Homo sapiens: one gene and its partners. The protein of the gene in region 2 purifies or fractionates together with the protein of the main gene of each other region. This does not show direct contact. Each region holds a gene or a part of one and is shown on either strand. Other genes may lie near its edges. The genes, in order: PGAP1, TECTA and ZBTB43.

What was found.
Region 1: the proteins of TECTA (region 2) and PGAP1 purify together in Homo sapiens (affinity purification with mass spectrometry; one large-scale study listed by BioGRID and IntAct). This does not show direct contact.
Region 3: the proteins of TECTA (region 2) and ZBTB43 purify together in Homo sapiens (affinity purification with mass spectrometry; one large-scale study listed by BioGRID and IntAct). This does not show direct contact.

The regions. Positions count from the first base shown.
Region 1 is NC_000002.12:196,916,587-196,920,323, reverse strand, and holds part of PGAP1 (GPI inositol-deacylase), read left to right. Parts: intron 1-173; coding exon 174-327; intron 328-3,730; coding exon 3,731-3,737.
Region 2 is NC_000011.10:121,128,606-121,132,342, reverse strand, and holds part of TECTA (alpha-tectorin precursor), read right to left. Parts: intron 2,706-3,737; coding exon 2,132-2,705; intron 1-2,131. Other genes in the region: TBCEL-TECTA protein, read right to left, coding at 2,132-2,705. UniProt on the Homo sapiens protein: One of the major non-collagenous components of the tectorial membrane. The tectorial membrane is an extracellular matrix of the inner ear that covers the neuroepithelium of the cochlea and contacts the stereocilia bundles of specialized sensory hair cells.
Region 3 is NC_000009.12:126,836,040-126,838,710, reverse strand, and holds the end of ZBTB43 (zinc finger and BTB domain-containing protein 43), read right to left. Parts: 3' UTR 501-2,671; downstream 1-500. UniProt on the Homo sapiens protein: May be involved in transcriptional regulation.

The DNA of each region.
Region 1 (3,737 bases), on a different chromosome or scaffold from region 2:
CTATATGAATAAACTACAAGTAGAACTTGTTTTGTGTATGAAGTGTGGTTTTAATATCAGTAATATTTTTATATTGCACTATTTCAAATTTGCGTAATTCAGAATTGCATATGGTGAGGCTGAATTGTATTAATAAAACTGATTAAAGTGAAACTACTTTTTTTTAAATGTAGAAAATAGAACTTCCAAAGAAACTGGCAAAACGCTATCCCGCATATGAGTTGTATCTTTATGGAGAGGGATCCTATGCTGAAGAACACAAAATTCTCCCTTTGACGGGTATTCCAGTTCTCTTTCTTCCTGGTAATGCTGGAAGTTATAAGCAAGGTAAGTCTTACTGGAAGTAAATTTTGAAAGCTATAAAATTCAACTCAAGAATTTGAATCATATCCATACTCGGTGAATCAAATAAAGTAAATGAAATGCATGCTGTGTGTGAAGTGCTGTGCTGGGCTTACAGAGAGACCAAAATATAATATTTTCTCTGAGAGAGAATAATGTGAGAAATACTTAGAAAAGTTGAAGACCACTTTGCAAAGAGAGGGGTACAAAGAATAAGATAGAGTAGGATGGGATAAGTAGATGATAAAGGGGAACCCCTTGGGGAATCAGCAGAGGAAACACATTTATGTTGGAAATGGAGGGTAAAGAGAACAGAACCTTAAGCATTGATTAGGGAAGTAAATCAGTGACTAATGTTATGCAGAACAAGAGAGATTCGTTTTCTTCTTTTGGAGTTATTTAAGTTAGAGAGATTTGGAAGTACTGGGGGGAACATAGAAAGGTGAGATAGGGAAGTTACGTGTACAGATTCCAAATTGATGCTGGCTTGGAGATACAGCAGTTATTTCTGGCGTAACAGCCAAATAACCTGGAATTAATTTCGTTTTAAACTAAAACCTGCTTTCTTGTTATTTGATGGACTAGAATTGTTATGTAATGAGACTAGAATTGTTTCAACATGTGCAATTATTTACGTGTTTATTCATCTAGCACGTGTCTACAGGTATCTACCATGAGCCAGGCTGTATTCCAGGTATTAGGGATCCAGAGCATATCAAGACAAAGTCCCTCTCTCATCAAATTTATATGCTTATCAGGAAGACAGCAATCAAACAAATATGTCAGTAATGTTAAAAGCTAGAAACAAAAACAGACTCAGGAGGTAGAAGATAAAAGGGTCAGGAAGTGGCTAGTTTAGATGAGGTGGTCAGGAAAGGCCATTGTGAGGAGATGACATTTGAGGAGATGCTTGACTGAGGGAAGGTCCTGAGGCAGGAACGTGTTTTGTGCATTGGAGGCTATCGTGACTAGAGAAAGTAAAAAGAGATAAGAATGGAAAAGTAACCACGGGCCATATCATATAAGCTGTGGAAAAGACTTTGAATGAGAAACTGTTGGAGAGCTTTGGGTAAGAAAAATATAACCTGATTTTTAAAAGTAATCTTTGTATTTGAAATATTACATACAGAGAAACACATAGAACATAGATATTTGGTTACAAATTATTATAAAGTGAACACCCGTGAAACCAAAACCCTAGTCAAGAAGTAGATTACCAGTAACCTGGAAACCCCTTCTGTGCCCCTTCATGATTAAAACTTTGTTCCCTTCTTTCTTGACAGAATCACAGTCCTAATGTTAAGAGAGTAATTTCCTTAACTTTCTTTGTAGTTTTAATGCAATCTATGTATATGAGGCTGTTTTTAAATTTTGTAATATGAATATAGTCATTCAGTATGTATTATTTTGTGTCTGGCTTCTTTCACTCAGCATTATCTTTAACATTCATCCAAGTTGTTGTGTGAGCTGTGATTCATTCATTTTCCTTACTCTGTATTATTCTGTAGTATGACTATACCATGGTTTGTCCATTCTGTCTTTGGACAGAATAAATGTTTACATTTATTGGCAATTACAAATAATGAATATTATTCCATATGTTTCCTGGAGCACATAAACCTGTGCTTCTGTAAGCTAGATACCCAAGAGTGTAATTCCATGTTACAGGTTATGTGTATCTTTTTAATCTTTACTGATTGTGCTAATTTATATTCCTAAAAGCAGTATATTTTACCTTCCTTTGCTCCACATCCTTTTACAACACCAGAATTGTCAGACATTAAATTTTTAAGCAACCTGGTAGGTGTGATTTACTTTTAAAAAAAGTTGCTCTGGCTTCACTATGAAGAGAATTTCCTTTGAAGGGCAAGAATGGAAGCAGGAAAGATGCTAAAACATCATAAGTCATCAGAGAACTATAAATAAAAAATGAGATAGCACTTCATACCTCCTAGGATAGTTATAATAAGAAAGATGGATAACAACAAGTGTTGGTGAAGATGTGGAGAAATTGGAACCCTCATACATTGTTGGTGGAAATGTAAAATGTGCAGCCACTTTGGAAAACTGTTTGGGAGTTCCTCAGAATATTGAACATAGAGCTCTCATGTGGCCCAAAAATTCCACTCCTAGGTATCTACCCAAGAAAAATAAACATATACCCACACAAAAACTTGTATATAAATGTTCATAGCAGCATATAATAACCAAAAGGTGGAAATAATTTAAATGACCATCAGCTGATAAATAGATGAATCAAATATGACATATTCATATAATGGAATATTATTCAATAAAAAAGAGGAATGAAGTACTGATACATGTCACAACATGGGTGAACCTTGAAAACATGCTATGTGAAAGAAGCCAGTTCCAAAAGGCCACGTATTATATGAGATATCCAAAATAGGCAAACCCGTAGAGACAGAAAGTAGATCAGTGGTTGCTAGGCCTAGGATTTGGGAGGAGTGAAGAAATGGGGAGTGACTGCCAGTAGGCACAGAGTTTTGTTTTTGAAACGATTAAAAAATATCTTATGTTAGATTTCAGAGATGGTTGTAAAATATATACCAGAGATGGTGAATATACTAAAAACCATCGAATTTTACAGTTTTATATAGTGAGTTGTATAATATGTGGATTATAATGTATCTATAGTATATGTTTTTACAAAATGAAATGGCAAACAGGTATTTTGTTTGCTAAACCATATGCTACAATTTTTGTGCCACCTAATATAAGCAATTTATAATATATTTTTTAAAAAGATTTGCAAAACAACAACAAGAACAAAAAGAGTGGAAGCAGAGAGACCAGTAAAGAACCTGTTAGAGTAGTTCAGATAAGAGATAATAGTGTTTGGATTAGGACAATAGTGGTGGGAATGGTGAGAAATTTCAACTGGGGATAGATTTGGAAGGTACATTATGAAAGCGCTTACTGATGGATTGGATGTCCTGTGTAGGAGAAAAAGACAAATCAAGCGTGAGTATCTAAACCAAGTGATGAATGGATATTTCTTGTAGGAACCTTGTCATTCTTAAAAACCTCAATAAGTGTGGCAAAATTTATATGTCTTATTCTTCAAAGAATCCTGCCCTTTTAGCTATTGTTGCTCCTACCAAAGGAAAAGAAGGTAGAGAGTGAGTGATCTGTTTGCTTTTTGTTTATTTAATTTTAAAAATATTTATGACACACTTACTGCATTCAAGGCATACAGTTGCTAGATTAGTTTGTTCTAAATTGGTGCTATTAATGAATTTCATCCTGAAATAGGTGGTTTATATTCGTGATGCAGGATAAGGTTATTTACTAAGAAATTCTGAAGAAAGAATGGATGAAACCTGTAAATATTGTTTAATGTGCACTTCACTCTTTTCCTCTGCAGTTCGTTC
Region 2 (3,737 bases):
AACCATTGCTGGAGGGGACTCCCACTGGCCGTATATGGAACAATTTGAGCATAAAACAAATTATGATAACAGATACAATCGGTTAAGTAGGAATCCATGAGTCATCTAAACAAATAAAAAGAAACAAATGGGTGAAAAGGACATCTCTTTACAGTAGAATGCCAACTAATGAATGCAGGAGCCATTGAATTAGAAAAAAATTGCCATTTCACAAACAGTAATAAATGATTCAGACAAAAATCATCACTGGATACTAAATCTAGTGTATGCAAGTTCAAGGAATAGAATAGCTACCTAAATTTAAAGTATTTCCCTGAAAAATATGTATTAATTATATGATTAAAAAACAGTAACTTTCAATGGAGAAATCTGACAGACACTACCTTAAGCAAGCGATCGAATCTATCATGCTCAGTGTAACGGGACAAACCAACATCAGAGGCCTCCAGATATGACACATTGAGAAGACGCATCATTGCTTTTGTGGTATTCCTGCCAAAAATGCATAATTTCAATGGAACCAGGAAGAAATATAAGCCAACTCAAACTGAGAAACAGTCTGCAAAATAACTGGCCTGTACTCTTCAAGAACGCTAAGACAATGAAAGTCAAAGACTGAGGACCTACTCCAGATTAAAGGCGTCTACAGAGACATCATAATAAGATGCAACATGTGATCCTGGATTGGATTCCAGGGTTTGTTTTTTGTTTTGGCTGTAAAAGACATTATTGGAACCACTAACAAAATATGAACATGGTCTTCAGATTACATAATAGTATTGTATCAATGGCAATATCCTGATTTTAATGATTATGTTATGGTCATATAAATGTGCTTATTCTTAGGAAACACACTGAAATATTTAGGTACAAACAGGCATAATGACAGCAACTTACTCTCAAGTGGTTTAGAAAAAGAGTGAGTATATTTTCAGAGACAAAATTAGAAAGAAAATGTGTTACAATGTTAACGATTCGGGAATCTGAGAGAATGGTAGACTGTCTTATTCCTGCAACTTTTCTGTAAGTCTAAAATTATTTCAAATTAAAAAATACTTTTGCCAATTAAAAACGGAGGACAGATAAATAGCCGTCAGGGATGAATCCTTTTTTTTTTTTTTTTTTTTTTGAGATGGAGTCTTGCTCTGTCGCCCAGGCTGGAGTGCAGTGGCGTGATCTGGGCTCACTGCAAGCTCCGCAGCCCAGGTACAAGCGATTCTCCTGCCTCAGCCTTCCAAATAGTTGGGACCACAGGCCCCCGCCACCACGCCCGGCTAATTTTTTGTATTTTTAGTAGAGACAGGGTTTCCCCATGTTAGCCAGGATGGTCTCGATCTCCTGACCTCGTGATCCACCTGCCTTTGCCTCCCAAAGTGCTGGGATTCCAGGCGTGAGCCACCATGCCCGGCCGGGGATGGAATCTTAATGGTGGCCTTGGCTTTGGTGTGGGGCCCACCTTTGTGGTGGGAGAGGGTTGTGTGCTGAAGGCCAGATGAGGCAGTTCTTGCTCCACGAGTGAGTCCTGCTTTCTGCCATGTTACTTCTCCCTGTGGCTTCCCTGATAATCAAGGGTGTTACGTATCAGGTCTTCCCAGAAAGTTTTCTAATTACTACTAGTACTTGCCACTGCATTGCTGAGAGGGGTCAGATACTTTCGGGACAAAATTAAAAGCCAGCAACACAGGACTCTCTTAATACCCATTGTCAGGTTTGCCCTGGGGAGCATGCTAATCTCCATGCCCCAAAGGTGCCCTGGCCGATCACTTCCTATCAAAATCAATGGGGCTCTTCTTTGCCAAGGGAGAAGGCACCTACAGAGCCATCACAAAGATTTCTAGTCCTTTGACATGGTGCCTCTACCCTCTGCTAGATAAAACCACATGCAAATAGGATGGTTAATTGTTCTGCAGTGAGGAGGTACTGTGCAGTTAGGAAAAAAAGTAAAGATGAGAGGCTCTCCGGTTTGGGGTGATGAGTCTTTGGGAGGACACATCAGACTAGGGTAGGTATACACAGTAATTAACATCACCCTTGAGCTCAGTCCCACCTGGAAGGGAAGTCCTGAGTAAGGCCCAGCATGGCACCTATTTCCCAGCTAGAAAGCCTCTCCCAGAATCCAACCCCAACTTACGGCAGAAGTCATAGGTCCGCCAGGGCCCCACCTCCACGTCCGCATTCTTGCAGGCGCTTGCATACCGGGCCACAGAGTCACAGAGCTCTGACTCATTGCCCCCACTCTGGCACAGGCGGAAAAGGCAGGTGCGGTAATAGGCAGTGACGTTCACCACCCCATGGCACTCCAGGAAGGAGCTGTTGGAGGGGTCGTTGATGATGCCGCACCTGGAGCGGCTTCGATAAAACTTGAGCAGCTCCGAGTCATTGTTGCAGGCCTTCAGCAGGTCCCCACACTCTCCATTGCAGATCTCCTCGAAAGTTGTCCAGCTTTCCAGGAACACTGCCAGGTTGTCCGTGCACTTGCCGTTGGGGAGACAGAACTCGTCACTGGCGTTGGCATTGTAGAAGCCGCACAAGCCCCCTGTGCAATTGAAGTATGTGGTGGACAGCCGGATGTACAATAGACCTATGTCTGAGTACTGGACAGTCACCACGCCCTTGGACTCCACTGTCGTACTGTTTTTGTTTCGATAAATTTCCAGCTTCCCCGAAGGATGGAAAAAAGGCAATTCCACTTCCTGACCATTCAACTGAAAAATCAAGTCATTCTTATCAATTCCAGAGACACACAGAGCACTTTCCATTTCCTAGGCTGTGGGATAAAGACACGGTCTGCCCTATTGCTAGCCTTTTGAGAGAGGTCAAGAAGCTGATGGAACCCACAAAGATACCAACCGATTTGTCATGGGCTTCTTTATTTATTTCTTTTTGGATTCCCCTGATTAGACCCATTTGCTGTTTATTTGTGTGTTCTGGACCCAAAGCTAGCCCAAAACAAACGAAACTAAAGTGTGAGCAAAAATCGTCTTAGATACGTGGCTCCCTCCTGCCGCCTGGCATCTCTGTTTTGGTACCTTTCAAAATAGCTCCCCTCCTTCCCTGCCTTTCTGGCTGCTTTTCTCTTCCAGTCTTACTTTTTCTGTGTCCCAGCTCCTCGAGGGCACATAGCATATCTCTAATGATCTAGCTGTCCATTCTTCTATCTACTTCCTACTAGTCTATTAATAAATAAATCTCTGCCAATGTGGCAATGAGAATAAAAACACATCCCTTCCAGTTTGTGGATGCGTATTTTATTATCTCCTTGGGCAGTACTGTGTTGGCTTTTGTTTTCCAAACTAGACTTCAGGTGACATAAAATGCATGTTGCATCCCCGTTCTGCAACAATTAGCTGTGGGACCTTCACTTACCCTTTTAGTAAGTGTCTTCATGTGAAATGAGGAGTTGCACTAGATAATTCTCAATATTCCTTCTAGAGCTAAGGATCTATAAGTCTGGGTGCCTAATGATGGGTTTTTCAGAGCAAGTCAGAGGGGTGGGAGTCACCCCTTACATCACCCCACATAGACTGGCATGTATAGGTAGGGGAGTTAGTAGGGTGCAAGGGTTAAGAGCGCAGATTCTGGAGCCAGCCAGGCAGGTGTGAATCTCCCTTCACGGTTAGGTGTCCCTGTGGAAGTTACTTAGCCTCTCTGCTCCTCAGCTTTCTCATCTGTAAAATGAGGATCATAAGATGAAGTGTGATACTGCTTATAAGGGGCTTAGAATAGTGCTTGGCACA
Region 3 (2,671 bases), on a different chromosome or scaffold from region 2:
AAGCAGGGAGTCAGGACTGAGACTGGCTTGAGGGGACAAGGGGAAGGTGTGGCTACTAAACCCCAGAAGTTGCCTGACAGGACCTGTGGGCCTTGGCAGAGGAGCCCAGCCACCGCCAACCCACAGCTGGCGGGAAGGAGCCAGGGGAATGAATTCCCTGACTTCTCTGTTCTCTGTTCTGCCAGGCTCCACCCAGAGTGTCTCTGGATCCTGACCGGAAGCCAGGACAGGTCCACCGTGGCCAGCTTCCTGGAGAGAAGTGCATAGCAGGAAGGGGGCCCAGGGGGCACAGAGAGCCTCTAGCACACCCCAAGTACCCGAAGGGGCCAGTGGGGGTCTAAAATATTACTATAAATGCCTGCCTGGCAGTCACTCACTGCCCATTGGATCAGATTATTTGGCATTTACTTACCAAAACGCCACCATATAACTGTATTCTCAGGTGGCAAAACCCAGAGTCAAACAAGATGTGGTCATCTACTCATAGTGAAAAACAAAACTTTTACAAAGTTGACAGATAACATTTATTAAAACATGTCATACAAAAGGGCATGATCTCTTCTATAAGAAGAAAATATTAAACATTAACATTCAATTAAGTAAAACCATGCTGTACACTGAAGACAGCAATATATAAAGACAAAACTATTCAACTTTTGCAACATAGGCATAACATTTCACAAAATATCAATAAGATATGCACCTAATGATAATCTGTTTATCATCAAATGGTTTTGTGGCCTAAGAGTCACCTGACTTGCATAAATAAAGTACTTTTCTGGACGAAACATTGGGAACCTCACAAAAGGAAAGAAGGCAGCAGCAACTAACATGACACAGGCTTCAAGCAAAAATTAAAAAAAAAAAAAAAAGTCACATTTGCAAAATGTGTTCCAGCATCTCCCCATAGGGCACTATCAGTAGAGATTTGAAATAAGAAACTTGTACCTTTAAATATGTAAGTAGCAAAGAAAAAAACCCCAAACAAACCCTGGTTTCACTGAACAAAAGTTAGTCACCCACTAAAGCAACCTAAATCACAAAACTGGTGGCACAGGAGGGATTGGGGATAACACAGTGCTGGTTTCCAGCACCCCTAAATTATCAGAGACCTTCCAAAAGCAAAAACCTGGACTCGTTGTGATGGCGCCCTCTCCACGCCCACCCAGGAGGCCGCAGCACATCCCCTTCCCCAGGGAAAGCACAGCTTTGCAGCTTCTGCTCCGTCTCAAATTCACTCCACAGCAGCTTGGGGGTGTGTGAGCCTCTCAAGGAGGGAGCCCTGGAGGCTAAGCAGCTTTCCCCGGTGGTTAGAAGCCAGCCTTAGGGGCAGGTTAGTTCAGCAAATGCCCACTAGAATGGAGGGGATCCCTTTGGGCAAGCTTTTAAAGTAGTGGCCAAAAGGGACCAGAGGAAGATGAGACCTAGAAATCGGAATCAACAGGCTGGGGGCCTGGAGCGCCTGCAGGCAACCTACAGCCCTGCAGGGTAAGTTACCGCAGTCCTTCCTTAGTTAACGGTGACATGCACTTCACCACGTGGATTACTGTAACGTGTGTATCTAAAGGTAAAAGCATGGCATAAGTATGAATTTTTTTTTTTTTTTTGAGACAGAGTCTCGATCTGTCGCGCAGGCTGGAGTGTGGTGGTGCAATCGCGGCTCACTGCAACCTCCGCCTCCCAGGTTCAAGTGATTCTCCTGCCTCCGCCTCCCGAGTAGCTGGGATTACAGGTGTGCGCCACCACGCCTGGCTAATTTTTGTATTTTTAGTAGAGATGGGGTTTCACTATGTTGGTCAGGCTGGTCACAAACTCCTGACCTCAGGTGATCCACCCATCTCGGCCTCCCAAAGTGCTGGGATTACAGGCGTGAGCCACCATGCCTGGCCCCAAGTATGAATATTAAATACCACTGGTGGTGCCTTGAAGCCCTTTCCCATGGGGATTGAAGAAAAACCACAGTTAAGACTCAAAGTAGGGGACAAATAGCTTGGTTGTAGGCCATTGACGTGATCCCTGAAAGATTGTTTGAACAATGTTACCCACAACCATCCAAACTTATTAGGAAGGATAAAGATTTTCTAAAGCTATATTGAGGTGAAGAGAAGAGACTATTCCTCCAACTCAACGTGGGGATGAAAAAAAGGTAAAAACCAGAGTTTACAAAAATTCACTTTTAATATTCAAATGAAAGCAACCCCCTTCTCCTGCCTCTCTGAACATGGCCAGCATTTCAGACACCCTACCACCTCCCAGGCTCTGGCTGCCTGATAAAAAAATCCCAATTTTTGCCAAAACCTCAAATACCACAAAACACTAAAAGAACAGATGTGAGCAACTTATTTAAGTTCTACATTTAGTAGCTGATGGACACATAAGGCTTTCAAGAAGACACTCTTCTCTTCACAACATATTAAATAAGTCCTAGCACAACTGACTGCTTCCAAAACTACCACCCAAGCGTGCCACCACTCTTGGCTGAACAGAAACTCTTCCTCATGACAAGGGCACTATGCTGATTTCAGCAGAACTGAAGGACCACGACTCTCCCAGAATATCTGTATTTTTACCTCTCAGACTTCTCCTGCAATGTCCTAATGATCATGTAAATAGTCTTCAATGAGAAACAGGACATCAAACCTTCCAAACAGGCAGAAAATGCTCTGCTAAT